Linked DNA regions of Homo sapiens: region 1 is linked to region 2. Evidence: fine-mapped expression QTL. A gene starts in region 2. The other region holds a variant in brackets. All regions are shown on one strand. Distances are between the middles of the regions.

Region 1 (2,911 bases), 24 kb before region 2:
CCACACGCAGCGTCACTTGAAAAGAGCCCAAACCGTGCTGGGTGCAGAAAAGCTCTCCAGGCATGCTGGCTGTTGTTCTCATCTGGTTCTCACAACAGCTCCAGCAAGAAGGAGGCAATTCCGTGAAGGAGGCGGTGGAGGCTGGCAGATAGGGCTTGCCAGGTCTCTCCCGAGAGCTCCCGCCGCAGCTGCAGCAATCACGACACAGATCATGATATGGTTAGTTCATATTTAGGAAGTGACTGGTGGGACTTGAGCCCACTGCCAGGCACGGAGGAGGCACCGGAAGCATTTGGGTTGAATTTGCTCAGACTCTGAATCTGTGCTCTGGACAGGCACCTGTGCCCGGCCCAGGCCCTGCACTCTTTTCCAGTGGCTTCTCAGGGGTCGGCCTGCAGCAGCCAGGGGTGGGTATCCATGCCGTGGCGGAGAGATCAGAGTTGCACTGTGGGGAGTGGCTTTCTTTTGCCTGCAGCTGCTGCTTGGTGTTCTCTGCCGCTCACGGCCTATGAGCACAGAGATTGTGTCCTGCTCTTCCGCCTGCTGCCCACCCATTACATGTGCCCATGGAACATAAGAAGAGCAAGTCATCTATCTGAGGGGCATACCCGCTGCTGGGGACAGGTTCAGTGGAGCTCATGAGTGGTGTGGAGGGGCAGCAAGTGCCCAGCAGACCCTCAGGAGCACCTGGATGCACTTTGAGTTTGGGGGAGTCGGGAGGATGCAGTCTCTTTGCAGCAGTGCCCCCCATGCCTGGACAGAGGCCTTCAACCAAGGAAGGTCTGCTCAACTCCCCAGCCCTCTTTATTGATTTTGGGACACTGTGGGCAAGAAGGGCTCTTAGATCACTTGTCTGGCCCTTCAGTTCATAAAGGAAGTGATGAGGCACAGAGAGGGGAAGGGACTTGCTTGAGGTCACAGAGCAAGTCAGAACGCAGGGCTCCAGGTTTCCAGCTCCAGGCCTCTCAGACTTCCGTGCTTCCAGGGGCCATGTCGGTGACATTAAAACCATAGTGCAAGTGACAATGTGGCAACTGACGTTGGCTTCAGTGTCAGGAAGGCAAGAGGGAGAGTCCTTGTCTGATCCCAGGGAGGGGGGGCTGCCACCCAGCAGGAAGGTGGGCTTTATTCCACCAGAGCTTCTGCTTTTTCCAGCAAAGTTGGAAATCGGGGTTTTCATGTGATGTGAAGTTTTACAATTGTTAAATGTTGACAAAGCTAAAACAAAAAAAAATTCAAAAGCATGGTGACATGCAAAGCAAAATGACTCATTTGACACCTGTGGGTTACAAGTTTGCCACCTTGGGACTGTCTTTCTGTGGGGCTTGGTGGGTGGAATTGTGGGAGGAGGCGAAAGGCCTAGATGCTGCCAAGAGGATCTGAGCTTTGAGACACTGTTGTCTGATTATATTCATTCATTCATTCATTCATTCATTCATTCATTCATTCACCCTCTGGTCTGGGCTTTGCAGTCTCTCTTCCTTGTTTCAGGGGGTCTGCCTTCCCGTTGGCAAAATAACCTTGTTCTGAGATTCCCAACATCCCAGCAGCCAGACTACGGGCAATGAAGGATTTCCAGGGAACATGGGAACCTGCTGGTATCTCTCCTTGCATTTTTCTGGATAAGGTTTAAGGGCTTTCTTGGTGCGGTGGAGAGTGAAGCTGAGCT[G/A]CAGAGCCCACTCTAGACAGACCTAACCCCTAGTCCTGGTCCCATTCCTACCCTGGGGATTAAAATTTGGGATTGGCAGATCAGGTTTGGATCCAGGTTCTGCCACTAACAAGCTGTGTGACCTTAAACCAGTGACTACCCCTCTCTGAGCCTCGGAAAGAAGACCCTGCAGATGCCTGGCCCAAGTCCCCTCAGCCTTCACTTTTTCCCATTTGGTGCTGCTTACTGCACACGCCATGACTGTTTGCCCGAGGGCATTTCCTCTCTGTGTGAGTGAAATCGAAGCTGAAGGGCTTTGAGCCCTGGAACATATGCATCCGCTGAAGCAGCCCTCGGGCAGTAAGGCCTGAAGGCAGACAAATATCCCAGCCTCCTGTCCCCTCAGTTGGGATGATCCTGGGGCATATTCCACGCCATCTCCCAGCAAGCCCCAACCACTTTGGTTGCCCGCAGTGGTCATTTGTTTAATGACTCAGCCTTTTATGTCTTTCTTCCCTTCCCTGTCTCATTTCTCCTCTTCCTTACCGGTATTTCCTGGTATCATCTCTGAAATGCACTACTCACAGGGAACTGAGCCCTCACCTAAGGGCTGCTTCTGGGGGACACCATACTAAGAACCTCAGTTTATGCAGCTGTCAAATGGGTCCACTTACCATCAGCATAGCTTCAGAATTGCTGTGAGGGTAAACAACTTACTGCATATGTAAAATGCCTGGGAGCTGCCTGGTACCCTGCTAGCCTTTCCTCAATGGGTGGTAGGTTTTTTTATTTTTTATTTTATTTTTATTTTTATTTTTTAGACAGATTCTCACTCTTGTCGCCCAGGCTGGAGTGCATTGGCAACATCTCGGTGCACTGCAACCTCCGTCTCGCAGGTTCAAGTGATTCTCCTGCCTCAGCCTCCTGAGTAGCTAGGATTACAGGTGCCCACTACCATGCATGGCTAATTTTTTGTACTTTTAGTAGAGACGGGGTTTCACAATTTTGGCCAGGCTGGTCTTGACTCCTGACCTCAGGTGATCCGCCCACCTCGGCCTCCCAAAGTGCTGGGATTACAGGCATGAGCCACCGGGCCTGGCCAGGTGGTAGGTTTTATTGTTGTTGATGAAGGTGTTGTGACATTGGGCTGACCCCCAGGTCCCAATTTCAGGTCCTTTAGGGCAGTTTCGATGTGGGGGCCTGGCTGCTGCAGGAGGGCCTCAGGGGCTGGCTTGTGCACTGAGGGTGAAAGAGGCAGGAAAG
Region 2 (2,911 bases):
AAAGGAGCTACCCATGGCAGGTCTCCTCTGAGCTGCGCTATTGCTCAGTAAAGCTCCTCTTCCTTTTGCTCACCCTCCACTTGTCTGCATACTTCATTATTCTGGATTGCAGGACAAGAACTCAGGACCTGATGAATGGCAAGGCTAAAGAGCTGTAACACAAACAGGGCTGAGATATGTCCCTTGCTCGCCATGCCACAGGCAAAGAGGAGAGAGGAGCTGCAGCCCTTCAGGGAGCTCAGGCCTGGGTGCTCCCTGAGCCAGACCTATGACTCCCTCCTTGGGTCCCTGTGGTTCCTGGCATCTCCAAGCTTCCAGGTGCCACTATGTTCCCAGTGCCAGCTGTGGATGCTGCTTGCAATGCACCTGGTCCAACCACAGACTCACAGAAAGCTGGCACTGGTGCTGGCACCTGGAGCTGCCTGCCCCACTGCAGCAGCCACACAGAGGTTTCCGGCCAGAAAAGTGACACCCCAAAGATCCCGTAGCACTAATACACCAACTCAAATTTGAAGAAGAATATTAAGAAAGCCTTGTCTTTTTAGAGACGATGGCTTATTATAAAGTGTAGTGATTCAAGGAGGATGTTCAAAAAATGGAAGAGAGAACCTCTGAACGCACCCACTTATAAATGGGCACTTCGAACGTGGAAGACGTCAGCATTTACAGAGCAACCTATTTAATAAAGAAATGGTGCTAGGCTAACTGGCTCTTCACACAGAAGAGATAAAATGCTATTCCTACCTCACACCAAACATAACGTACATTTCAGATGACCCAAAGCCCTGAATGGGAAAGAGCAAAATTTAAAATTTTTAGAAGAAAGTAATTATTCATGACATTGGGGGTACAGAAGTCTTAAAACAAAAACAAAAACAAACTAGATACAAAATTGAAATAATAAAATAAAAAATTAATAGTTAAGACTACATCTGTATTGAGCATATACTATGTATCAAGCATGATCTGCTCCACACTGCCACCAGAGCCACACATCTGACCACACCTGTGCCTGATTGAAGCCTTCTGAGCAGGGTGGTGCCCAGCCCACCAGGGGCAATGCAGGCCTACTTCTAGAGCAAAGGTTCCCACCCTCTCCTGAAGGCATCACACCCCACACACCTTCATTGCTTTCCGGCATTCCTTAAATACAACACCCTCTTTCGTGTCTCTAAGCCTTTGCACCTGCTCTTCCTTCTGCCTGGAGTGCATTCTCTTATTCACCACCTGGACAACTCCAGTGCATCCTTAAACGCCCAGCTCAGGTATCATGTCCCCAGGAAAGCATGCTGGCTTGCTGCGGGACTACTGCCTGCAGGACAACAGGCAATGTTGCAGTTCTCTCATCTCCACAAGCACTTACCTGGTGCTGTTCATTATGAAGTCTTTGCTGCTGCTTCCATTATGAGGGAGGTCCCTGGGGGTGAGGTGGGATGATGCATAACGTGATAGTTGAGTGTTGGCTCTGGAGACAGACAGTCCTGGGGAGAAATTCCAGATCTGCCATATTCTTGACAATGACCTTAAGCTTTCTGAGCATTTGTTTCTGTAGAGTGGGGCAGCAGGCCCACCTCCCAGGGGTGTTGTGAAGGTGAGATGAGATGACATGCGATGTGTTCATACCTGAGTTTGGGCTGATCTGAAAGCAGACCCTGCAACTCACACTAGGATGTGAGTTGCAGGTAGTTCATTTATGATCCCAAGGAGTACCTGTAAGGGGGTGGGGAAGAAACCAGGGAGGAATATGCATTAGCCAGCAAGTTATAGCTGTGGGCAACCGGGGCTCCATCCCACTGGGGACCCTGGGAAGACAGCGTAGAACACACCTGAGTGACCCCAGCTGAGCGGGGAGGGAGCTGAGTGTGTATTCCTCGGCTCTGTTCCAACATTGCTTGAGGGTCACTCCTAGGTGTGTGCTAACTCCCAGGACTCTGGCTTGCCCCCAACCACTGACCAGAGAACATTGTTGTGGGGCAGGGGGAGTTGCAGGTGCTGTGGTTGGAAGCTTTCCCATGGGCATGAGCCACAGGAATAACCAAGGCACGCGGGCGGCACTGCCATCTGCTGCAACCACGCATGCACCTGTGCGCAGTCACCAGAAGTTGCCCATTTGTTTTCTCATTTGTTTCCACAACCATCCTGGGAAAGGCATTCTGCCCATTTACAGATCAGGAGACTGAGGTCCAGAGAGGTTACCTAAGAAGACATTTGTTGAATAAATGAATCAATGAACAAGTGAACGCACAGACCTCTCTGAAGTGGTGAATTAAGTCAATCTGAGAAGATGAGAATCCAAGAGTCCCGATTCCCAGCTGAGGCTTGCATTCTCTCCCCTCATGCCCAGCTATCTCTGCACAGTGCTCTGCCGTCTCGAATCCCTTTCCACTCAGTAATCACTGAGCCAGTGGTGACTCCATGTTCAGGCTCAGGGGGGAAGCCCACTGGTGTAGGAGATTTGAGTTCTGGTCCTGGCTGTGTCTTCATCTGCGCTATGATGTTGGGTATGTCCTGGCCCCACTCTGGGCTCAGTTTTTCCATCTGTTAAATGGGAATGGGTGGATGTTAGATCAGCTAAGTCCCCCAGGCTGTTGGAACAGTGGGGAGGCTTTGGGTTGGGTTGCCCAGACTTGCCAGGTCTGGCATGGGAGATGGAGGGAACTGATGTGTCCCCTCTGCCCAGCATCCTGCTTGACAGGGCTGGCAGCTCAGTGGTTACAGCATCTCCTGATTTGGCCACACCTGGCTCTGAGGTCAGATTTTGGCCTGATGCAACGCTGGTGGCAGGCTTCACTCCGCAGACACACACTTCTGACGCTGGCCATGTTTGAGTCCTGACTTGGGCCTATTTGCTCTTTGACCCTGGTGATGGATGAAGTCCTGATTTGAACATAAACCGACGGCTGTCCCTTGT

What was found. PIP is the estimated chance that this variant, and not a neighbour inherited with it, causes the effect. A credible set is the group of variants that fine-mapping cannot tell apart.
Region 1: its variant is the best candidate, but not a certain one, in a credible set for the expression of LINC02793 in lymphoblastoid cells (GENCORD, PIP 0.50).

The regions. Positions count from the first base shown.
Region 1 is chr1:25,063,095-25,066,005 of GRCh38, reverse strand. No RefSeq gene overlaps it. Among named protein-coding and RNA genes, the nearest start is that of LINC02793, 23 kb to the right of the region's middle. The variant G/A (reference allele first, on the strand shown) is at 1,670.
Region 2 is chr1:25,039,590-25,042,500 of GRCh38, reverse strand. LINC02793 (long intergenic non-protein coding RNA 2793) reads right to left here and starts at 1,334. Exons shown (of 3, transcript XR_947090.3): 1 at 1,123-1,334.